Homo sapiens: one gene and its partners. The protein of the gene in region 2 purifies or fractionates together with the protein of the main gene of each other region. This does not show direct contact. Each region holds a gene or a part of one and is shown on either strand. Other genes may lie near its edges.

Evidence for each region.
Region 1: the proteins of OSGEP (region 2) and ACTR2 fractionate together in Homo sapiens (co-fractionation; one large-scale study listed by BioGRID). This does not show direct contact.
Region 3: the proteins of OSGEP (region 2) and CUL2 purify together in Homo sapiens (affinity purification with western blotting; 2 studies listed by BioGRID, with this or other methods). This does not show direct contact.
Region 4: the proteins of OSGEP (region 2) and VRK1 purify together in Homo sapiens (affinity purification with mass spectrometry; one large-scale study listed by BioGRID and IntAct). This does not show direct contact.
Region 5: the proteins of OSGEP (region 2) and EEF2K fractionate together in Homo sapiens (co-fractionation; one large-scale study listed by BioGRID). This does not show direct contact.
Region 6: the proteins of OSGEP (region 2) and CHCHD4 purify together in Homo sapiens (co-immunoprecipitation; one large-scale study listed by IntAct). This does not show direct contact.
Region 7: the proteins of OSGEP (region 2) and TOMM34 purify together in Homo sapiens (affinity purification with mass spectrometry; one large-scale study listed by BioGRID and IntAct). This does not show direct contact.

Annotation. Positions count from the first base shown.
Region 1 is NC_000002.12:65,244,831-65,248,330, reverse strand, and holds part of ACTR2 (actin-related protein 2), read right to left. Parts: intron 1,808-3,500; coding exon 1,592-1,807; intron 1-1,591. UniProt on the Homo sapiens protein: ATP-binding component of the Arp2/3 complex, a multiprotein complex that mediates actin polymerization upon stimulation by nucleation-promoting factor (NPF).
Region 2 is NC_000014.9:20,448,857-20,451,812, reverse strand, and holds part of OSGEP (tRNA N6-adenosine threonylcarbamoyltransferase), read left to right. Parts: intron 1-2,546; coding exon 2,547-2,642; intron 2,643-2,799; coding exon 2,800-2,849; intron 2,850-2,956. UniProt on the Homo sapiens protein: Component of the EKC/KEOPS complex that is required for the formation of a threonylcarbamoyl group on adenosine at position 37 (t(6)A37) in tRNAs that read codons beginning with adenine.
Region 3 is NC_000010.11:35,013,842-35,017,341, forward strand, and holds part of CUL2 (cullin-2), read right to left. Parts: intron 2,554-3,500; coding exon 2,351-2,553; intron 1-2,350.
Region 4 is NC_000014.9:96,859,882-96,863,381, forward strand, and holds part of VRK1 (serine/threonine-protein kinase VRK1), read left to right. Parts: intron 1-675; coding exon 676-854; intron 855-3,500. UniProt on the Homo sapiens protein: Serine/threonine kinase involved in the regulation of key cellular processes including the cell cycle, nuclear condensation, transcription regulation, and DNA damage response.
Region 5 is NC_000016.10:22,209,278-22,212,777, forward strand, and holds part of EEF2K (eukaryotic elongation factor 2 kinase), read left to right. Parts: intron 1-3,500. UniProt on the Homo sapiens protein: Threonine kinase that regulates protein synthesis by controlling the rate of peptide chain elongation.
Region 6 is NC_000003.12:14,118,371-14,121,870, forward strand, and holds part of CHCHD4 (mitochondrial intermembrane space import and assembly protein 40), read right to left. Parts: intron 1-3,500.
Region 7 is NC_000020.11:44,957,598-44,961,719, reverse strand, and holds the start of TOMM34 (mitochondrial import receptor subunit TOM34), read left to right. Parts: upstream 1-1,322; 5' UTR 1,323-1,386; coding exon 1,387-1,513; intron 1,514-2,182; exon of another isoform or gene 2,183-3,383; intron 3,384-3,412; exon of another isoform or gene 3,413-3,427; coding exon of another isoform or gene 3,428-3,476; intron 3,477-4,122. UniProt on the Homo sapiens protein: Plays a role in the import of cytosolically synthesized preproteins into mitochondria. Binds the mature portion of precursor proteins. Interacts with cellular components, and possesses weak ATPase activity.

The DNA of each region.
Region 1 (3,500 bases), on a different chromosome or scaffold from region 2:
CCTCCTGGGTTCAAGCGATTCTCCTGCCCCAGCCTCCCAAGTAGCTGGGATTACAGGCACGCACCACTATGCCCAGTTAATTTTTGTATTTTTAGTAGAGATGGCGTTTCACTATGTTGGTCAGGCTGGTCTCGAACTCTTGACCTCGTGATCCGCCCACCTCGGCCTCCCAGAAGTGCTGGGATTACAGGCCTGAACCACCACTTCCAGCCGCCCAATTCCTAATTAGAGCCTACAAGGCACCAATATTACTTACTCGACCTCATCTTCTGTTGCTCTCTCCTCAACCACACTGGCTTCCTTGCTTATTCTTTAATATACCAAGCTTGTTCCTAACTTAAGACCTTTACACTGGCTACTCCCTTTATCTGGAATACCATTCTCCTATATACCCTGGCTAACTCACTTACCCTGTCTGTTTAAACATCACCTTCTCACAACCTATGTACAATTACAACCTCCCACTCCCCGTTAACCTGATTTATTTTGCCTTTAGCATCTACAGCTGATCCATGAATAACAACAAGTTTGAACCACACAGGTCCACTTATACACGATTTTTGTCAATAAATCTTTCCTGCCTCCCCTTGCACCTCTTCTGTCTCTGCCACCCGAGACAGCAAGACCAACCCCTCCTCTTCTTCGTCGGTGTGAAGACAATGACGATGAAGATCTTTATGATGATCTACATCCACTTAAGGTATAGTAAATGTATTTTCTCTTATGATTTTTTATTTTTTTTTGAGACGGAGTCTCGCTCTGTCGCCCAGGCTGGAGTGCAGTGGCACGATCTCCACTCACTGCAAGCTCTGCCTCAAGGGTTCACGTCATTCTCCTGCCTCAGCCTCCTGAGTAGCTGGGACTACAGGCACCCGCCACCACGCCCGGCTAATTTTTTGTATTTTTAGTAGAGACGGAGTTTCACTGTGTTAGCCAGGATGGTCTCGATCTCCTGACCTTGTGATCTGCCCGCCTCCGCCTCCCAAAGTGCTGAGATTACAGGCGTGAGCCACCGCGCCCGGCCATGATTTTCTTAACAGTATTTCCTCTAGCTTACTTTATTGTTAAGAATATAGTATATAATACATATTATGTTATCAGTAAGGCTTCTGGTCAACAGTAGGCTATTAGAAGTTAAGTATTTTGGGTGGTAGTTAAGTTTGCACGTGAGTAGGGAGGGTTGGTGCCCCTAACCCCTGCATTGCTCATGGGTCAACTGGATCACTCACCTTCTAACAAACCATTTAATTAACTCTGTAACTGCTTATTGTATTAGCCTTTTCAGTCTCCTTCTGCTGGCTCCTCCATAAAAACTTAATTAACTTAATTAACTCACTAAATTAAAAACTTAATTTTTTTGGTCTGTTTTTCCCTGTTAGAATATATACACTCCATGGCAGTAGGATTTTTTGTTTACTGATCTATCCTACTTTCCTACTTAGAATAATGACTAGCATATAGTAGATACTTAATAAGATCTGAAGGAAAACAATTATTTTTATTCTCTTTATCCATAGCAACAGTAAGAAAATTTTTGATTTAACATAATATCACAGAAATACACATATGCATATCCTGCATAAAAACTCACCTCTACAATCTTCTCTCTGTTTTTGGTTGGGTTCATAGGAGGTTCTGTGAGTAAGATTTTACAATTTCTGGTATCTATATTAAGTTTCTCTGGTCCAAATGTGTAGTCCCACAGGTGTTTCATGTCATCCCAATTTCGTACTATGCCATTTTCCATAGGGTAGTTAACTTCTAACATTGATCGTAATTCACTTGCCTCATCACCAACCATAAGATCCTAGAAAATTATGTCAAAGCTGTAGATCAAAGTTTTGCATAATATTTAAGAAAACTTGGGAATAATTAATTTTAATATTTCTGACACTTGCAAAATAAATCTTTTTATTCCACAAGTTAGAAAATCTTTTCTATCAAGAACAATGTCTTAGAAAGTTTAATCATGGATAATACATTTTTACATACAATGTGGTTTAAATCAATAAATTGACCTTACCTTTAACACAAATGTTTCCAAAAGAAGAGCATTAGCACAAATAAACCCCACATTTTCATATTTTGGAGGGTTTTGTATGAGGTTTCATCTGTTTCTTTTGCTCAATTGTTCAAAAAATAAGGCCTGTGATATGTGAAATAGCACATCAGGGGGAAAAAAACTTGTAGAAAAATGCTCAATGCATGCAGCACATTTCTTTGCACTAAATATCAAAATGATAAATGTAAGTACTATAAAGCATAATGAAAGAAGCAAAAAATAAAATGATTCTTTATTACTCTATAATAATGCATACATACACCAACTAATAAATAGCACAAACTTCTATCTACATATGCCTGAATAAGAATTTAAACTGTTTCTACATATGCCTCACCAAGGTGAATGAGAATTTGTAGAGTTATAAAAAATTAAGATATAGGCAAATAACCCATCCTTTAAAATTGTCTCCTGAGCAACATTTTCAATCTTAAAGTATACTGGAAAACTACACCATCACACATGAAGCATAATACTCACAAGTCTTGTCTCCAATGAGAGCATACTTAAGATGACCCACATTTGAAAGTCACATTTTCTATATATAATAAGTAAGGATGTCCTAGCATTTAGACTTATTTTTAGAGAACAGCTAGTCAAGAGGTTAAATAATACTAATTTCTACATATGTTGATAAATTCAATTAAAAAAACTAGTATCAGAAGTAGATATTTGCTACAATACGTTAAGTTTTAATTATGGAGAGACAAAAAAAAGCAGCAGCAAAATTAACACGAGATTATTTTTTTGAGACTGAGTCTCGCTCTACTGCCCAGGCTAGAGCGCAGTGGCATGATCTCAGCTCACTACAACCTCTGCCTCCCAGGTTCAAGCGATTCTCCTGCCTCAGCCTCCTGAGTAGCTGGGATTACAGGCACCTGCCACCACGCCTGGCTAATTTTTGTATTTTTAGTAGAGATGGGGTTTCACCATGTTGGCCAAGCTGGTCTCAAACTCCTGACCTCAAGTAATTCACCCATCTCGGCCTCCCAAAGTGTTGGGATTACAGGCATGAGCCACCACACCTGGCCAACATGAGATGTTTTAAAACAAAGGCTTAAAAATATATGAGTTTTAAATTAAAAAAAAAAGAAAAAGAAAATATCAGAGATGAAACCAAGGTGAGGACTCTAACAAAAAACCAAACAGATCTCTGGAAAATCCACTAAAAGCATCAAAAAGTATAACAAAGTTAAAAACAGATGCTAGAAATGCTCAGTAAAAATTTGTTGCAATTTCTTATGAAGTTCATTTACCATAACTTACTAACTTATTACTCAAATATCTGAAATATTAAATGTTTACACTCTTTTTTTTTTTTTTTTTTGAGATGGGGTCTCACTCTGTCACCCAAGCTGGAGTGCAGTGGTGCCATTATTGCTTACCACAGCCTCAACCTCCCCAGGCTCAGGTGATCCTCCCACCTTAGCCTCCCAAG
Region 2 (2,956 bases):
AAATTTTGGCAGCATGATCAGAACATTAGATGGCTTATCATTATCAGACTTTATATCTGATTATAAAGATTAGGAATTTCTACTTCAGGAAAGGAATGAATGGGATTGAAAAGGATTGAAATCTTCAAAATAATGAATATCTGAAAGCTCTTGCATTATTTTGAAGCTTATTTTTTCTATAAATCTTAGCAATTGAAACTAACAGTTGCTGGGTATGGCAACTCATGCCTGTAATTCCAGCACTTTGGGAGGTCGAGGCGGGTGGATCATCTGAGGTCAGGAGTTTGAGCCCAGCCTGGCCAACGTGGCAAAACCCCATCTGTACTAAAAATAACAAAAATTAATTTGATGTGGTGGCAGGTGCCTGTAATCCTAGCAACTCCGGAGGCTGGGCAGGAGAATCACTTGAACCCAGGAGGCGGAAGTTGCGGTGAACCGAGATCGCACCATTGCATTCCAGCCTGGGCAACAAGAGCAAAACTCCGTCTCAAACAAACAAACAAACAAAAAACAAAAAAAAACAACTAAAGGACACTACCTGATTTATTATTTTGGGGCAAGTACATGTTTTGTTTTTATATTACTGGGAATGATTATGTAGACTTTGTTATTCTAAGAGTTTAGAAATATAAATAACTTTAAAAAATACTTTGTAAATTATAGAAGGTATTTTATTTTATCTTATTTATTTATTTATTTATTTGAGATGGAGTTTCGCTCTTATTGTCCAGGTTGGAGTGCAATGATGCAACCTTGGCTCATTGCAACCTCTGCCTCCCGGGTCCAAACTATTCTTCTCTACTCCCGAGTAGCTGGGATTACAGGCACCCGCCACCATACCTGGCTAATTTTTTGTGTTTTTAGTAGAGACGGGATTTCACCCTGTTGGTCAGGCTGGTCTTGAACTCCTGACCTCAGGTGATCCACCTGCCTCGGCCTCCCTAAGTGCTGGGATTACAGGCGTGAGCCACCATGCCCGGCCAGAAGGTATTTTAAATTTATAGGTGAAGCTAAAGTTGTTTGGGTTACCTTATATGACCTTTTTAAGGTTGGGATTGGATTCTTTTCCAACAGAACACTTGATTATCATTAGAAATAGTTCAGCATTGTCCCCAGCTCATGAAAGGGTTGTGTCGAGAAGATGAGGCACATGTTTCCCATGAAAATGATGCAGAAACTTCAGCAGGTAGAGGGCAAGTAGTTGGTTGAGGCCTGAAGGATGACATACAAGGTCAGAGACTTGGGTTGTGGAAAGTATAATGGAGGCTACAAGAGTTGATGAAAGGAGCAGTGACGGTTTTGTCTTCCTCTTCTCTTTTAATGTTTGCTTAGGTGTAAGAAACAGGGAGGGTGATTAGGTGGAGAGGAGTGGATAGCAGAAGCAGAAAGGCAGGATTTTTCCTTCGCCTTTGTTACTGTCTTTTTGACAGCAGATTAAGATCTGTATCAGAAAGGGAAGAAATCCCTAACAGCACTGGGAAGGGAAAGGGACTTCTTAAGGTTCGTAGGAAGCCCTCGGTGTTATAAGTCTGCAGAATATGTGTCAGTAAGGGACAGATATTCTCTGTGCTAAAAGTTGGTCACATATGAAGAACGGCCTTAATACAAAAAAGTGGTGGTGGGTGCCTGTAATTCCAGCTGCTTGGGAGGCTGAGGCAGGAGAATTGCTTGAACCTGGGAGGCAGAGGTTGCAGTGAGCTGAGATCACGCCATTGCACTCCAGCCTAGGCGACAGAACAAGACTCTGTCTCAGAAAAAAAAAAAAAAGAAAAGAAAAATGGCCTTAAGTGAATTGCCATTGCTGACTTGGCTGGGCCATTAGTCTGACTCCATATGAGATTTTTGAGTTCTTCAGCTCTGCTTCTTGGTTCTAAATACCACTGCCCAGCTGCATACGGTGGTTCACACCTATAATCCCAGCACTTTGAGAGGCTGAGGCAGGTAGATTGCTTGAGACCAGGAGTTTGAGACCAGGCTGGGCAACATAGTGAGACCCCCATCTCTACAAAAATATAAAAATAAGCCACACATGGTAGCCCAGCTACTCAGGAAGCTGAGGTGGGAGGATCCTTTGAGCCTAGGAGGTGGAGGCTACAGTGAGCTATGATCACACCACTCCACTCCAGCCTGGGAGACAGAGCGAGACCCTGTCTCAAAAAAAAATTACCACTGCCACTGTGTCATAATTTAGAAGGATTCATGTTCTCTGCCTCCAAGCAGAAAAGCCGGTTACCTACTATCAAGACTGCATTTAAGGGATATATTAGGAACTTCTAAGCCGGAAAACCAATGTATTTGAAATGACAATTTATTTCTGCCTGAACCTACACTGTCTAGGAATCTGTTCCTGGAATCCTCAGGGTATACAGATTTCTTCTCAAATCAGAGCTGTAAAAACTACCCATTCACCATTTGGGAAACACCTTTCTTCCACTTCTTATTGGAAGCCCTGGTGGTCATGTTGATCCTCTGCTATGTTTTTCTCCCAAAGCCAAATAATCCTCTTTACAGACTTGGGGTTTCATGGACTTCCTCATCACCCTTAGGTGATTGCATACTCGGAACATCGTTACCGTATCTTTGGGGAAACCATCGATATTGCAGTGGGTAATTGTCTGGATCGTTTTGCTCGAGTGCTGAAGGTAAGCCAGTGGGGCTGCAGAGAACATAAAATGTGGGTGAATTTTTGGGAAGCCATGGAGGTGGAGGGAGGAAATAGTAAATGAGCTTCTTATGCTTCCTGCATATCTGATTTCATCCTCTTCCATTCCCTCCTTCCTTATTTTTTTCTTCTGCTAGATTTCTAACGACCCAAGTCCAGGATACAACATTGAACAGATGGCAAAGCGGTAAGGGGACATAAGGTGGAAGCAGGCTGGCTGCTGGGGCTTCAGGGATTTCCCCATATACGGTATATATTAACAAAATTTGGGACGGGCTTTGGAGGGTGAGAAGC
Region 3 (3,500 bases), on a different chromosome or scaffold from region 2:
ATCTTTAAATAAGAGTTTGCTGCAAGCAATTCTGCTAAATTAATGACCAAGCAAAAAAGCCTCCACTCTCATAACTTTTATATTATAGATTACCAAATTTAAGAGAAAAATAATTCTTTTGTTCAAACAAACAGGAAAAAACCCAATTATTTTCTACTTTTACATCTGCCAGAATCTTAAGCAGTTTATGTTTGGGAATAAGCTATTTTCTGGTCCTACTATTCTATATACACTACTTTTTGATAAAATAAGAGTCAAGCTCATTGCCTAGAGTTTGACATTTTAATTTTTATGAAACACCAAAGTGCGTAACTTTTCCATCACCCCATTTTGAAAAAGCAACCACATTTTTTTTTACAAATGCCGCAGTAACAAAATACCCACTGTAAATGGCCTGATGACAAGAGAAAGCTGTGCCTCCAGTAGCACACAGCATCAATTTGCTGTGACCTGGGGTGATGGTGAAAACATTTATTTCAATCCATGTTTTATTCACTCTTCAAGAAGCAAGTGGCCTTTGCTCAGGGGAAAACTGTTTAGGCAATTTTTAGAATAACAACTTCTGTATCAGGCTTAAGAAAGCCACTGATATCATAGAGTGGAATTTCTCTGGCAGCAGAATCAAAAGGCACTTGGAAGATGAAATAATTCTCAATAATAATCTAAGACATTCTGCTAAGGAATGGACAGATTCATAATTAAATTTAAAGGCCAGGCATGGTGGCTCACGTCTGTAATCCCACCACTTTGGGAGGCTGAGGTGGGCAGATTACTTGAGCTCAGGAGTTTGAGACCAGCCTGGCCAACAAAGCAAAACCCGGTCTCTACTAAAAATTAAAAAATTAGCCTGGCATAGTGGCTTACACCTGTGGTCCCAGCTACTTGGAAGGCTGAGGCAGGATTATCACTTGAGCCCAGGAGGTGGGGATTGCAGTGAGCTGAGATGGCACCACTGCACTCCAACCTGGGTGGCACAGCAAGATCTCATCTCAAAAATAAATAAACATAAAATAAAATTTAAAGTGCAAACAAGGAATCTATGTTTACTTTGTCAATTTCTGGGCAGCAAAAATAGCATGTTTTAGAAAAAAATATAAAACCTTTAAGAATTTACTAGCCTAAAATTAGAAACCATAATTAATTAACCTTAAGAAATCCCTATTTTGGCCAGGCACAGTGGCTCACGCCTGTAATCCCAGAACTTTGGGAAAGACAGGTGGATCACCTGAGGTCAGGAGTTCGAGACCAGCCTGACCAGCCTGGCCAACATTGTGAAACCCTATCTCTACTAAAAATACAAAATTAGCTGGGCATGGTGGCACGTGCCTGTAGTCCCAGCTACTCAGGAGGCTGAGACAGGAGAATCATTTGAACCCAGGAGGTGGAGGTTGCAGTGAGCCAAGATCACGCCATTGCACTCCACCCTGGGCAACAAGAGTGGAACTCCGTCTCAAAAAAAAAAAAAAAAAATCCATATTTTGCTAAGATTCTGATGCCAGATAAATCATTTCTCAAAATTATGAAAACATTGATTTGAATTTCAGAATATGCCTTTTACAGTTGTTCAGTTATAGACTATAAAATGTCATCATAATCCTAGGGATGTCAGCAAAATGAATTAATGAGAGAAATAAACTGTAGGCTATTAACTTTACAAAAATAAAAACAAAACATTATTTATAGGAATTTTTTCTTATAAGCACAATAATTTGAAGGAGATATAATCCCACCTCTGTTGCATTTTTAACTATTTAAACATCTAGGATATACTATGACAACAAAACAGCAAAATCTTGTAACTAGAAAAAAAGTTACAGAGAAAAAAAGTAATATACTAATGGCTTGTTATTCTTGTGACAGATATTAAAAATATATGGTGGTTAAAAACAGATGACAGTTAATTGAGTGCTGACATTAAGAACACTTGGAATGGAGTTACACATATTAAATATGTGTACAAACAGACATCAACAGGCTGTCATTTCCTGTTATAGAACCATGAAATTAAGCACATTTATAAAACCAAAAACCTGGAAAGTCTTTAAAGGCTAGTTTCAAAATCTCAATTAATCAAAATCTTCCAGATGGCAATTCTTTTACAATTATTCAATAAGCTGTAACAGTATAGGACAAATAAAATCAAACTATAAACGGCACATGGCACCAACTCACACAGCATGCTCTGTGATGCCTTAACGCTCGCAGCTCTATGGAGCGTACAGTAACGTAGTGAATACAAGTGCTTTCCAGAGCACAATAACAATTACAGCCTTATTTTAAAACTGCAAACATCTCATGAAAAAGCTTTAATGCTGATGATGCTTAAATTCTTTGGAATATTACTACATACCTTTTCTGAATCATGGTTAATCATTTTCACATCAAGTAATGATTTGATTGTTTTTGTCAGTTCCTTTTCATTCATCTGAGTGCTGTCCTGAAGCTCTTTATAACTGACAGTTTCACTGTTGTTAAAGGCAAGAAGAACTGCCATTTGGTATGTTGTAACCATGGCTACATATGGTTTGCCCAAATAGTTCATTTTAACTTCACCTACAATTAAAACAAAAACTGACAGTGAATTGACCATTCAAAGAAACATTTCAAATTTACTTTATTTCAGACATTTTCTTCGGAAAGAGTGAACCAATAATTTTATTAAATTGTTGTAAAGCCACTGCTGTTAACAAGGTAGTCATTTTGTTTCTTGGGGAGGTGAGGATGGAAGTCTATTAGTTTTGAGTATATGGTATAAATCAGTAAAACTATCATAACTTCACCAGTAGGTTAAAACAGTCTTTAAGGCCAGGCGCAGCGGCTCACGCCTGTAATCCCAGCACTGTGGGAGGCCGAGGCAGACAGATCACTTTAGGTCAGGAGCTCGAGACCAGCCTGGTCAACATAGTAAAACCCCATCTTTACTAAAAGTACAAAAATTAGCCAGGCATGGTGGCTCATGCTTGTAATCCTAGCCACTTGGGAGGCTGAGGCAGGAAAATCACTTGAACCTGGGAGGCGGAGGTTGCAGCAAGCCAAGATCACACCACTGCACTCCAGCACGGGTGACAGAGCGAGACTCTGTCTCAAAAAAAAAAAAAAAACAAAAAAAAAAGTCTTTAAATATTAATAGAAATGCTAAGACTTAGGCAGAAAAAGAAAAGAACAAAAAACCCAAACAATAAAAGGAGGTGGGAGAAGGAGAAATGGACAGACAAAGGGCAAAGTGATATCAGCAACAGCCTCAAGTGCTGTCGATAGCTGGGCTCTCCCAGGTAAGGTTCAAGCCTCCTGGGAGGTCCACAGCCACATGGAAAATGCTTTTGAGGCCCTGTCTAAGCTGTAATTTCTGCCAAAATTAATGCTATTATGTCTCATAAACAACATTTTTCTTTCCAGTAACTTCCTAGAGGCAAACAGGTATGAAAGGAGAGACAAACAGGCAGACCCATTCTCTTGCTGAAAGTTGATAGCAAAAGAATCTGAATGTTTTCATAAAAATG
Region 4 (3,500 bases), about 76 Mb from region 2:
GAAATGATGGATATACAAGTCTGGAGGTCGGGGGAAAGGTCTGTGTGTGAGTCATTAGCTCAAAAATGAATTTTTAATATTGAGAAGTGTTGATCTTGACTAGTAGGATTTCTTTTTTATGGTGTGGTTCTGTCTAAGTGTACAGTACACTTTTATCATTTGGAAGCTGATTTTTCTCTTTTATAGGAAAGCCAGATCTTATTTCTTTCTTCTTTCTTTGGCCTCTTTTTGGTGTGTTTTATTTCTCATTTACACGAAGAATATAGCTATCTGCTATAGAGCTAATGGCTTTGATGGCAAAAACATATTGGCTATGATATTCATTGTATTTAAGGACATTTTACTTTCTAATCTTTATTCTAGATCCCTTTGTATTTTTTTATAACTTTAATACTATAATAGTTATTTTTATGAGTATTTACATTTTAAGTTGTCTTGTTTCTCACAATTACAAAAAGTGTGTTTTACATTGTATCTCAAAATACTTTTTAAATTTCAGTTATCTGACAATTCCTGAGTTCAAAAGCATACTTTTCATTGAAGTGATTGAAAAAAATAGGTATCTTAACAAGATGTGTATTTGCATTCTAACTTTACTATAACCATGAATTATTTTTTTTAGAGGTTAGAGAGAAATATATTGAAAGTTATAAAATGATTGTGTTATTCTTTTAGGTGAAATTGCCAAATACATGGAAACAGTGAAATTACTAGACTACACTGAAAAACCTCTTTATGAAAATTTACGTGACATTCTTTTGCAAGGACTAAAAGCTATAGGAAGTAAGGATGATGGCAAATTGGACCTCAGTGTTGTGGAGAATGGAGGTTTGAAAGCAAAAACAATAACAAAGGTGAATTTTGTTATTAAATTATTCTTTGGTCTTCTTGTGTTTATAATTGCAATAAATACTAAAAGAAAGTATAGCAGTAGTTCAATGAAGAACAATAACAGATTGCATGGCAATTAAGGCAAACATTTTTTGTAATACAGAAAATGTGTAGAGGGTTGTAGAAAAATAAATATTTATATATTTCTTATGTTTAGTAGCAAGTTACTAAATTCCTGAACTGATTTTAACTTGGAATACTGATATCTGACAGGGAAATTTTGATGGTGCACTGAATTCATAATTTATATGTTCTTTTCTCCCAAGTCACCACTTAGGGTTCATCTTGTCTTGGTTGTTTCTTATTTGTGGATATGGTCAGAGTATTTACCAGTTGAAAACGGGCATTTGAAAAATTACCATTTGAAAATTTCCTTGTTTGTTGGTGTGGTGCATTTTACCATTTGAACATTATTTTGCTCTGTGAAGAAATATTATATAAAGCTATATATCAGCATATAAGGGGATTAATTGTTTGGAGAGAAATGTTAAATAATGAACTTTATGGTAGAAGTATTATACAAGCATGTAAAGAACTTCTGGCATCACTTTAGATTTTACAGGTATGCATTAACTTACTGATTTGCTATTGATTATTTTTGATAATTAACTTACTGATAAACTTACTGATTTCCCTTATAATCTGAAATTATTTAATACAATGTGTTAGCTATTTTTATATGAGGAAGGAAAACAACTTTTAGAAGAAAAATTTTTTTTACATTATTAACCATTTTTACTGTCATTAACTTTGCAAATTCTAATAGATTTATTTGGAAATCTCGTATTCCAAACTGAGAAAAAGCGTTAAAACAAATTTTTCTCTCTTTAAAATCAGACGCAGCACATTGAAAAGTTTTTATCTTTTCAATTAACAAAGGAGATAGGAATTTTGAAATTGGACCAAAAATTTAACTTTGCCAAATAGCAGGTCTCTGTAATTTCATCATAGAATCTGAAATTATATACATGCATCTACATATACTTTTTTTTCTTTGATAAGTTTTATCTTAATTGCATCTGCTCCAGTTTTGTGGTCAACAAGTGTGCTGAAAACTGTATCTGTTTGAAATGAAGAGGGTAAAATGGAAGCCTGAGTGGAATTTTTTAGTAAGGTATTATAGTAAACTTACTCTTTGCATACATGCATAAACAAGCAGCATGTTTCTTATTGCTCAGGATAGATTTCTCTGCGTTAATATTTATAGGTAGCTTGTATAGTGTTTTTCTCTAAAATTTTGGTGATTGAGAAGTAAAGATCTCTGCTGCTATGTGAGAACTTGTCCAGAGCAACCACCTCCCTCCGCCCAACCCCCATCCCCCTGTCCCCGCCCCTACCTTCCTTTGCAAATCCCTTTGTTGTTTGGACTTACATGCTGGAGAAAATGTAGTTTCTGCAGGTTGGCTGACTTTACAGCTGAGTAGGTCAGTCTGCTGCAGAGCTAACATCTGTGACCTTATAATTCTGTGGTGTCCTTGGATAGTTCAGAAGGCTGGAAATTTCCTGTTGGATCATCCCTGACATGTATAAAGCTTCATTTAGGGGAAAAAAATGAATACTAAGTTGAACAAGTTGAACTATTAGGAGATTTATTTCATTAGTTTACTACTTTTTGTACACTCATTGCTGACACAGGGTTATTCTTTGTATTAAAAAGAAATTAATAAAAGTTAAGGTTAGGTAAGATCATGAGCTGCTTGATAGCCATGTAACTGAAGTGAGTTATTAATTTTGTTAGCTTTTTTTTTTTTTGTAAAGTGAAAGAACTGGACCAGACCAGTTTTTTTTCAAGCTTTTCTTTTAAACTGCAGAACATTTTCTTCATATAATTTGTAAATGCTGTCACTGAAAACAGATAAAAGCAGAGCTCTGCTGGATGAGAAGTTGGGGGCTCCCTGCAATGAAAAGCTTTCTCCTTTGAGAAACTAGCTTGCTGCCTCTGTTTTTCAGCAAGATCTATAACCCAGATGTCTTTTTTTGCTCTGGATGTCAGGAGGCTCAAAACTAAATATGATGCTTAGTTCTAGAAACTGTTAATTTTAATAATTAGTACATTTGTTTCCTCTCTTTTCGTTTGTCATAATTTTTGAAAGTGTGAAGTATATTTTCTGTGTATATATCAGACTCAGATCTCTTTTGGAAAGGGGTAGGTTTAATCAGTTTAATATATGTTTGTATTTAGGTTCCTAAGAAATATTCTTTTTGGTAAAAACCTACAGGAATTGATGAACAGTGGAATGAAGCAAGGTTTCTTGTCTATGTTTTTGCAGCCATGCTTGATTATGGTGCAGTATATTTGGAAACTAGAGTGAAACATGAATTTACCCACTTGGAAATGTTTTCTGCTTAATAATCAAGGAGCTTTATTTAAAGCATAGAATTTTGGGATGACATAAGGCTGAAGGAGAACAGAGAGATCAAGTATACATCTGCCCTTAAAAAGTACAAAGTCAAATATTTTTATTGTTGATTAGAACTAAACATTTTCAGTTTTTAGAATCTGGCAGTACAGTGCAACAGTTATTGGATTCAGTGTATACTCATAAATTAACATTCAACAATTACATAAAAAGTCTAGTTTATGTACCTGATCTAGGCTAGGTCTCTAG
Region 5 (3,500 bases), on a different chromosome or scaffold from region 2:
CGCCTCCCAAAGTGCTGGGATTACAGGCATGAGCCACCATGCCCACCCGGGAAGGATGTCTTTAGGGTTGTTATCTTGCTGTGGGGAGAGTCCCCAAAGCAGTCTTGTCCAGTTTTTGGCAGGGTTGTCGTCTGGTTGCCGGGACTCTGGGAGCTGTGTGAAGAAAGCCAAGGGTGAACAGCAGAAGCTTGGACTTGTTCAAGCTCGTTCTCCGGGATTCACTATTTCTGGTCCAGTTCTTACACCTGAAGCAGAACAACTGAATGATCAGGGCTATAGACAAAGTAATAGCGGCAGGTTGAACTAATTTAAAAGAATCAGTGTTTTTTGTTGAGGGAGATTGGTTCTGCTGACCTGAAAGCTGCAGGTTATTACCCTGATGAACTGAGAAGGCTCCTAGAAGGTGGTTAGAGCGATGACCTTGTCTCCACCTGGGATGAAAGCGGCTTGGGCCTTAAAGTGTTGCTGGATCAAATTCTTGCAGCCAAGGCTGATGAGCACAAGCAAGGAGGCTTCTTTTTTGTTGTTGTTTTGAGACAGGGTCTTGCTCTGTCACCCAGGCTGCGGTGCAGTGGCACAGTCACAGCTCACTGCAGCCTGGAACTCCTCGGCTCAAGTGATCCTCCTGCCTCAGCCTCCCAAGTAGCTGGGACTACAGACATGAGCTACCACCATGGCTGGCTAACTTTTAATTTTAGTGTAGAGATGGGGTCTCACTCTGTTGCCCAGGCTGGGCTTGAACTCTGGGCTCAAGCGATTCTTCTGTCTGGGCCTCCCAAAGTGTTAGGATCACAGGCATGAGCCGTGCCCAACCATATAAGAAGGCTTCAGACAAAGGAAGGAGTGAGTCACTAACACGCTGATGATAAAGCAGAAAATAACAGTGCTCCCCACAACCCCCAAAGTCCCAGGGCTGTGGGACTCCTAGAGAAGCGTCTCAAATGGCTCCAGAGTCAGAAGGTGGATGGCGTTCTGTTCTCCAGCTGTGAAGCTTTCGAGCTCTAGCAAGGACTAGCAAGCCAGAGGAAGCACCCGGAAGTAGGTGGCTAAACTGCGGAAAATTGCCCTAGGCCAGCGTTTCTCTAACTTCAGTGCACATCAGCATCCCCAGCAGGACTTGCTTACACTTTGATTGCTGGACCCATCCCCAGAGTTTAATTTAGTAGGTCTGTAGTGAGGCTTGAGAATTTGCATTACCAGCAAGTTGCCAGGTGAGGCTGCTGCAGTGGCTGCTGCGGCAGCTGGTCCCATACTTTTAGAAGCGCTGGTTAAGGAAGTGATGACTGCATTGAAAGCTCTGGATTCAGCCCGCACCAGCTTCAAACCCAACTCTAGTCATGTGATTTGGGATAAGTCACATAACCTCTCTGTTCCTTAGTTTTCTCATCTGTAGAATGAAGCTAAGAGCGACTAACTCCTGGGGTTCAGGGGAGGCTTCATGAAGGAGGTGATATCTAAGCTGAGACCTGAGGGATGAGCAGTCAAGTTGGCCAGGGGATGAGTAGGGAGGACAGGCTGGGGTGTGTACCAGACAGAGGGCATAGCATGTTCAGAGCCCGAGGAGGAAGGAGTGCCTGCCTTCTAGGGAGCTGGGAGGAGTTATGTAGCAAGTGCTTTGTAAGTGATACTGAAATGCTACCAATCTGTTCTGGGCAGGATCACAGTGGAGAGGAAGCCAACCAGGGTATGGAAAATGGGCTGCTGGACGGGCTCAGAAATGGTACAAGTTATTTGTGCTCTTTCATTGGCCAGAATGCAGTCACATGACCTTACCTAGCTGCAAGGGATGCTGGGAAATGTCCGTGGCCAGGCAGGGGAGAAAGGATTCCTGGAGGAAAGCCAGCTCTCTGTGCCACCTGTGGTTTTCAGGCCCCCTCTCTCACTTCTTCTCCACCTTGCTCACTTTGCTCCACTCTGTTGAGTAGATGAATTTTACAGATGAAGAAGCTGAGGTTCAGAAGGTTAAGTAATTTCCCCCAGCATTCCTCAGCTGACTGTGGCAGGGCCAGGACTTGAATTCATCCCAAAGGCCTTGTTTGGCTAGATCTGGTTTTGGTGCTTATCAGGTCCTCCATGAGCCAGTCTTTCCCACTACGACCTCAGCCATGTCATTGGACTAAGTAACTCCTATGTAGTTACAACACAGTAGGTTGTTTTGTTTGTTTTTGTTTGTTTGTTTTTTCGGAGGTCTGGGGGCGGGGGGATAGAGTCTTGCCCTGCTGCCCAGGCTGGAGTGCAGTGGCACAATCTTGGCTTACTGCAACCTCTGTCTCCTTGGTTCAAGTGATTCTCATGCTTCAGCCTCTCAAGTAGCTGGGACTATACAGGTCGTGTGCCACCACACCTGGCTAATTTTTGTATTTTTGGTAGAGATGGGGTTTCTCCATGTTGCCCAGGCTGGTCTCGAACTCCTGGCCTCAAGTGATCTGCCTGCCTCGGTCTCCCAAAGTGCTGGGATTACAGGGGTCAACCACCGTGCCCAGCCACAACCCAAAAGTCCTTCTGTTTCTCCATTATATCAGCAGGAAACTGCCAGCTTTTCTTCACTTACTCGTTCATTCATGCAGCATGCACTTGTGCATTTATGGTGTGTGCCAGGCATTGTGCTTTGGGCTGGGAGCTGCAGAGGAACAAGACACACGGCCCCTTTTGTTCAAGACACTCACATGGTCTGGCCACCGAGAGGGCTGGGCACACAGTTCATGTGAGAAGTGAGACGTGCTGTATCCCTGAGCTGACCCACCAGGAGTAGAGTGTACCGTGGACATGCAGAGAGTGCCCAGCAAGTGATTAAACATTACAGTTCAAGCTCCCTTGTGCATTTTGCTAATCAAAGCTATAATTATATTTTGTGTTTCATATTCCAAAATGCATTTTTCAGATTCCTGAAACAATAAAATAGCCCTTGCATGATGACAGTTTTATATGCAGAAAACACAGTGTACTGCAATGATATTTTTACGAGCCTTTAGCAGAGCAAATGATGACGTATCTCTGGCTTCTGCAGCAGGTTGCTGTTTACATCGGTAAGTTGATTTCTCTGTCTCTTTCTTTTTTTTTTTTTGAGACAGAGTCTTGCTGTGTCACCCAGGCTGGAGTGCAGTGGCACGATCTTGGCTCACTGCAACCTCCGCCTCCCAGGTTCAAGCAATTCTTCTGCCTTGGCCTCCTAAAGTAGCTGGGATTACAGGTACACACCACCACACCCAGCTGGTTTTTGTATTTTTAGTAGAGATGGGGTTTTCACCATGTTGGTCAGGTCTCAAACTCCTGACCTCGTGATCCGCCTGCCTCGGCCTCCCAAAGTGCTGGGATTACAGTCGTGAGCCACCGCACCTGGCCTTCTCTGTCTCTTTATGGTATGTGGGGAGATTTGTTTTTAAAAGGAAAAGGGGAAGAGAGGGTTGGGGAGGGCTCCTTAAAATTACACCAGAGGCTGGACACAGTGGCTCACACCTGTAATTCCAACACTTTGGGAGGCTGTGGCTGGAGGATCACTT
Region 6 (3,500 bases), on a different chromosome or scaffold from region 2:
GAAAGCAAGGAAAAAGGTTTGGGCCCATGCTTGGGCTGAAGTAATTAAGGAAGAGGCTTCTGGAAGGAAGGGGGCAGTGACAACAAAAACCGAGCGACATCTCCAGTGAGAAGGACAGTTCAGGGGACAGAGGGAGGGCACTTTGGTGCCTTACGCCATGCCCACACTGCACAGGGTCTCTTACACTAGAACAGAGTAACAACAAAAAACCCTCAGCACACGGGGCCAGGACCCCCAACCCACTGGAGGCTTTTGCTCCCAGAGCTGGCCTCTGCCTCAATACCTTGCATGTCATCCAACAGAAGGCTGCTTTTCCCCTGTGGCTGACTGGGGAAAGCTTTTGGACCAGGCAGCCAGGACTTGTTAAAGTACCTAGTAACCTTGATTCTACTATTCTGGCCAGTTTCCAAAATACTCAAAAGCAATCTGTAAAAATGTTGAACGCTAAGCAGAATGAGCTGATGCAAATTTCGCAACTCAGCTCTGGCAGTTTTGTTTACCGAGATGGCAGCTCAGCGCAGCCCAACGGGGAGGCCCAGTCACAGGCACAGAAAGCAAAGGGTCCAAACGTGGTAAAGTATGAGGCCCTCCTGGGGTTTGCCATACATAGAGAGACCAGGCCTCACCCAAGAAAAGCTGAATCGAGCTCTCTGCCATGTCCATGTAGCTCACGGGCTTCACAGGTGACTGTGATACACAGCCAGGTTAGGAAACACCAGCCTAGCACAATCCCACTGAGAATTCCAGGTCCCTCCCACTGGGCCAGGTCCTCACATGTGCCTTCCTGGACATTTTCCCTTGCAGCACAGTTCACACTGGATCGAAAGTAGAACAGTAACAGCTGTATCTTTTACACATTTTTGTCCCATGCAATGTGTTTTATTACATCTGTGAGTTCACTGGTGGGTATTACTTTATCTCCATTTTACAGAGACCACAGGATCTGAGAAACAGACCAAAAGACATGCAGTAAATGAAGGCAGAACAGGAACAGGAACTCTGGTCTGAAAGATCTGGAGTATGTCCCCTACAAACTGTCCATTGTATGCCTGTCCTAGAGGGCCTTTGCTTTCTGGAACTTTTAAAAGTCGATTCAAGGACTGATGCAAGGACAAGGCTTACCTATTCCTAACAGACCTAACTGTGAAAGAAAGGACTGGTCAGACTAGTCGTAAGATGCCAACTAGTGGGACAATCAGCTAGACTAGTAGTTCTCATGACATTTGTCAGCAATTTCTCTAGAGAAATAAAATTTAAAAGTGCTTGTGTTTTTATTTCTAAGATAAGCTTTAAAAGCAGTTGAATATGCATGTTCTGAAGGAGGTGGAAAACTACCTTAAACCCTCTGGTGCACAGTGGCTTCAATATTTCAATATCACAGAGAGTCTGAGAACTGGAGTTCAAATCTGGGCTTAAGCACTTCCCACTGTATGAGCTCAGGTACCATCTGGGCCTCAGAAACCAGGCCTTACCACCAGCTCCACCTACCTACCTCACGTGGTTGGGGAGGTGAAATGAGTTTCTGCTGTCAGCTGGAATCCCACTTGACAGCAATTTTTAAAGGGCATCAAGGATAGCATGGCCAGGAAAAGAGACAATCACAGGCTCAGAGATGTCAATAATGTTTTGGAAATGGGAGAGCTGATGGTCGAGTGCTCTCTGACTTAACCAGTGAAGAAAGCTGAACTCAAAGTGCACAAGGAGGAGGTCATCCAGAATCAACTCAGTCCCCACCCCAGAACCTTGGTCAGAGTGGGGAACTGGAGGCCCGAGGGGTTACTCTGAGTGCAGGACTTCAGGGTGGGGCTGAGAACAGAACTGAGTGAGCAGTCAGATACAAAGACACCTTCCACCCCCAGCTGTTTAGTTTTACTCTCGGTAGAGCCACCCCAACCCGTCTTTCTCTCACATCTCCAACAGCAAATTGGAATGGCTCGATCTTCAAATACATCCAGAAAGAGCTGCATCCCTCACCTCTTCGACCCCATCTCCCACCATCACTCCCTGCACTCCAGCCACGCTGGCCTCTGCTTTTACTTGAATGTGCTGAGCACATGCCTACCTCTGGCCTTTGCACAGGGTGTTCTGTCCTCCAGGAGCACCTTCCCTTCCCTCAGGTACCCTCACAGCGATTTCTCCCTGCTTTCACCTCCTGCTCAGATGCCACCGTCCCTGACCACTGCCCATCTCCCTTATCCCGCTTTATCTTTCTCCAAAGTGCTTTTCGTCACCCAACATACTATGTATGTTTACCACTTGATGCCCCCACTGGAATGTCAGCTCCTCAGAGGCAGTGATTTTTGTCTATTCTGTTCATTGCAGTATCCTGAGAGCCCAGAATAGTACCAAGGACAAAGTGGGTGTTCAATATTTGTTGAAAAAAATGAATGGAGAAACAACTCTGGATTAGGGCTTGAAGACCCAAGTGTAAGAATTAAAGAGGAGAGAAACACGAAGGGTGGCTTTTCAGTCAACAGGGACAGGTTTATTTTAAACAAACCTGAGAGGGGCTGCTGGCTGAGTTAGGTCAGAGCCACACTCTCTTACAGACTAAGAGTTTTTAAGGATTCAGGGTGGGAGAGCTTATCAGTGGCTTGGACTGCTTCTGTGTCTCTTTGTTGTGCTTATCTGGGAGGCAGACTGGTGTGTCTGTTTCCATACATCTTTCTGCAGCTGCAGGCATATCCCCCCAAGACTGCTTTTAGCTTCCCTATCTTAGTACACCTGAAGGGAAAGGAATGTGCTTATTAAGGCCCACAGTTTTACTGGGGCCCATTGTATGAGGGTGAAGTTTGGCAGTCACCCAAGAGACTTTCCCCCCACCTCCCTCTGTGTCCCAGCTGTCTTGTCTGTGTTTTACTGTCTGCTCTTTCTGGCTGCTTGTAGTTAGAAGAGAAGTGACTTCCTTGAAATGCATGAGGCTAGAAAGGGAGCTGGAACTTAATGTGCCAGTGTTTGTCCGAGATGACGCTACTCCTGCTCTGTCACCCAGTCCCAGCAGAAAGCAGGAAGACAGAATGGTTATCACCATTAAGTGAGTGAGACCAAAAAATCCCTTGGATGAGTAGTTTGATTTCCCCCATGAAAGGGGAGGATCTTTATACACCAGAATCTCTCAGCTCATCCACCCCAGAAGGAATGCCCCTGTGTCCTGCAGAGGAAGCAGTTTATTGTCTCCCATGGATGCTGACTCCCCAGGGTCATGTTTGAGAATGGCAACCTGCACTAAGGACTTATTTTCTTTCGTTTTTGGCTAAGTTGATTCAATACACCTGTGATACAATTCCAACCACTACTTTCTGAAGCTCAACCCAAGAAAGAGATCTAAAGCCAGAGGGAGTGGTGCCTGTGGTGTATTTTGAGTGAGGTAAGGGGTTTCTAAGAGTTTGATAAATCTGACTGCTAAGGACTTTCATGTTTAGAATCTAACCCCTTTGAAAGATACAACTCCCCCATACAGAATCAAGTGTCTGTGAAGAATACACAAATGGCTTTCAGAC
Region 7 (4,122 bases), on a different chromosome or scaffold from region 2:
AAGGGTGACTAATGCAAAGTTAGGGATAAAGCTAGAGACCAATAGGGAGCAAAGGGAGCATAGTGGGGGGTGGGGAGGGGGCTGGAAGCAGGAAAGGCTTTCAGAGAAGATGATGTTTGAATGGAATGTTATAAGTTAATTCAGGATTAGGCAGGAGAAAAAGTATTTAGAAAAAAAAATCCAGGAGAAGGAGATAACAAGCAAAGGCTAGGAAGCAAGAATTTAGTGTGTGTAGATAGCAATGCGTGGGACATAGAGTCGTCAGATGAGGCTGGAGATAAATTGAAGTCACACTCTGTGAAAGATCTTCATCCATTCTGAAAGCTGATCATACGAATTGGGTCATTCTTGTCATATCCAACTAAGACAGAATTGAAAAGCCAGGGGAACAAATACTCAGGGCATATAACATTGCTCCAAAAAAGTAATTTTTTGCAAGCCTGGCTGCTAAAACTGCCTGCTGTAACCTAAAACCAGTTTTATCTAATAGCTACTGAAACAGCCTGCTACAATTCTGAGTTTTATCCACCACTATCACTTACCAATCAAAGCTTGCCAGCTCCCCAAGAAGCTGATAAACCCCCACTTTACTAGTGCCTGTAAACTTCCTTGAAGAGCAATATGTAACATTTCTGTTTTATAAAAATCTCCAAACCTTCTCTTTGTTCTTCTGACATACCAAAGACAACCTGGTCTGTGTGTAAGCCCTGAATTGCAATTCTTGATTGCCAAATAAAATATTTAAACTTTAGAGATTCATCTCTATATGTTGACTTTGACACCATCAATCCACCTGTGCATTAATTTATTAAATAAATATCTATAGAGCACTAGGTACCAGGTACTTTCTAGCCTTGGAACCTTTGCACTTACCATCCCTCTGGCTGGAACAGCATTCCCTAAATCTTGTCTGGTCTCAGCTCAACTATTACCCCCTGAGAAAGGCCTTCCTTCATCCCCTTATTTAAAATAGCCCACACGTGGTCACTTTCCATTGCATTATCCTGTTTTGTTTTCCTTACAGCACTAATCACATGAAATGAGAGTCTTCGTTTGCTTATCAGTTAATTGCCTGTGGGGACCCCACTAGGACATAATCTCCCTGATAGCGGGGCCAGCCTCCTTCCCTGCGTCATCCACGGCGTTCTAGCAACTCAGGGAGCCCAGAGCATGCTGCCGCCCCGCGTGCAAGGGAGCCTAAGTTCCAAACCGAGCACGCGCAGAGGGCGGGACGCTCCGGGCCTCCAGGTCTCGCAGGCCCCGCCCCCTCGCCGCGGGTTCGCTGTTGGGCGGAGATATTCGCCGCCGGCGCTTGCGCCCGGAAGGTGTGCCGCACCACACGGGGGAGGAAGGAAGGAGCTCCCAACTCGCCGGCCTGGCCACGGGATGGCCCCCAAATTCCCAGACTCTGTGGAGGAGCTCCGCGCCGCCGGCAATGAGAGTTTCCGCAACGGCCAGTACGCCGAGGCCTCCGCGCTCTACGGCCGCGCGCTGCGGGTGCTGCAGGCGCAAGGTACGACCCCGGCCCCCATCTCACCTCCGGGCCTGCTCCTCCAACTCCCGCAACCACCGCCCGGGCCTCGCGCGGCGGCCAGCAGTCCTGCCCGGCCCTCCCACCCTTCCAGCCCCTTCCGACTCCGGCATCCTACCAGAAACTTCCTCGGCCCTTTCTTTCCACCTGCTTGTTAACTGCCCTGTTGGCCCCCATCCTAAGTTATTTAGGCCTCGTTCTGAGCCCTGAGAAGAAAGCTAAACCCTCCTCCCCCGCAGCAATTCATTTTTCAGTTAGTATTTGTTGAGTAGCTGTTATATACCGCCTGTGTAACAAGACACAAAAAGTCCCTTCTCTCAAGGACAGCGCATTCTTGTGGGGGCGGTGGGGAGGACGTGAGTCTTAAGCGAGTCAGTAAGTAAACGAGACCTGTGGGATAATCAGGGTTAGGAAGAAGACAAATAGGGTGATGTGATAGAGTTGACTGGAGTGGGAGATCAAGGGCAACATCTGTAAAGAAGTGATATTTGAGGTGATGTCTAAATGATGAGAAGCCAAGCGCACAAGGTTTTCGGTCCTGAAGTGAACTGCAATGAGAAAGGCCCCCCCTCCAAGACGATATAAACATGGTGTGTTTCAGGGGTCAAAGCATAGTGAGCCAGGGCAGGGAATAGGAAGACATGAGGTCAGTTAGGAAGGCAGACCCTTATTTATTGTGGAGGTGTTGTAAACTCTGCTAAGGAGTTCGGATTTCATGCCAAACTGGAAGCTTGGCATGAAAGCTGCTGGATGGGAAGCTACTGGAGAGTTTGAAACAGAAGAATAGCATATTCTTACCAGTTCTCCCAGCGTCCAGCTTTCGTCAGCATACCGCAGACCTTTGCCCAAAGCCCCTTCTCCAGGGTGACTTAATCAGAAACCCTCATTGGTTAAAGCCTTGACTTTTGAAAGGAGCCTTGGATCCTGGTTTCTGTGAGTCACCGTTCAGTACCTATTTCCCTTTGCCGCCTTCCTTTTTTTCCTTTTCTTGGCTAGCATCTCTTGAGTGATTTACCATGTGCTAGACATTTTAGACACGATCTCCTTTGATCTTTATTATGGCCCTGTGGATAAAATGCTTAGAAAGGAGGAGTCCAAGAGAGTTAAATTGGCTCCCTCGGGGTTACATAGTGAAGACATGGAAGAGCCACGATTTGAATATGGATCTGTTTGACTTTGATGCTAAGTCCAAATTTTTAATCATTTTGCTAGACCTCTCCTCACATCCTCTCCAGATTTCATTCTTTTTTTTTTTTTTTTTGTCTGCACTTTTTGCAGTTTCAAGCCACTCCTTTGCCCCCTTCTTTGTTCTAGAAAACTCTCCTTTAGGCCCACTTCCTCATGGCAGCCTTACTTGATGAAGTTGCTGAAGAAGCTGAGGTATTGATGTTGCTGCCATTTTCATTCATCTCACCCCAGCTGGTCTGGAAAAGCTTGTACATTTGTATGGGTTAATTCTGGGTCCATAGAAAAGCTAGCCTGGTATCTAGATTTAGCAAGGACCGGAGTTTGGTTCTGCTGCTGCTACAGATTTCCTAGGTAATTTTGGGCAAGTCTCTTGATTTATCTGATCAGTCTTCTTGATCACGAAGAGAGCTCAGGGAACAGGCTAACACAATGAACCCTTCCAGCAAGTCTATGAAGTGATATCCTCATGTGGTAGGTGGGCACGCATGATCAGAGGGATGGAGTGACTTGTCCGGATCGCAGGGTTGATGCCCTTTCCACCGCACCACTGCTGTTTCTGAGCAACCGTACTCTGGTGACTCAAGATGGATTACAGGTTTTGGGTACTTAGCTCCTTAAGGGCAAGGATGTATTTTACTAGTCTTTGTACTTTCCGTCTCTGGGCCTGGCAAAACAAGAGGGGAAAACGCTTGTTATTGTTGGTATTGAATGAAAGATATCAAATATCAACATGGCAACAGGATACTGAGTGAAAAAAGTAAGTTGCAGAAGGATAGGCAATATGATGCCTCTTAGGAAATGCTTTAATAGACATAAAATGGTATCTTTCCTGTTAACACACACACACACACACACATATATATACATATACATATATATACATGTACATGTATACATATATACATATACATATATACATATATATGTAAATGTAGAACATGCTTGAAAATGTTACATACCAACTTCAGGATTGTACTGGCCTCTGTGAGTCTGGGGAGGGAGCACAGGGATAAGGATGGGGATGGCTGGAGTTTTAGCTTATCAAAAAAATTTTTAAGGGTTGGGTGCCATAGCTCATGCCTATAATCCCAACACTTTGGGAGGCCAAAGCGGGAGGATCACTTGAGGCTAGGCATTCAAGACCAACCTGGGCAACACAGTGGGACTCTGTCTCTACAAAAACTTTAAAAATTAACTGGGCTTGGGGGTACACACCTGTAGTCCTATCTGCTTGGTAGGCTGAGCTGGGAAGATCACTTGAGCCCAAGAGTTTGAGGCTGCAGTGAGCTATGATTGTGCTACTACACTTCAGCCTGGGCAACAGAGGGAGACGCTGTCTCTAAAAATTAAAAAAGTTGGGAACTAATATAACGTGCTAAATCTAGTGGTGGATTCTGAGATAA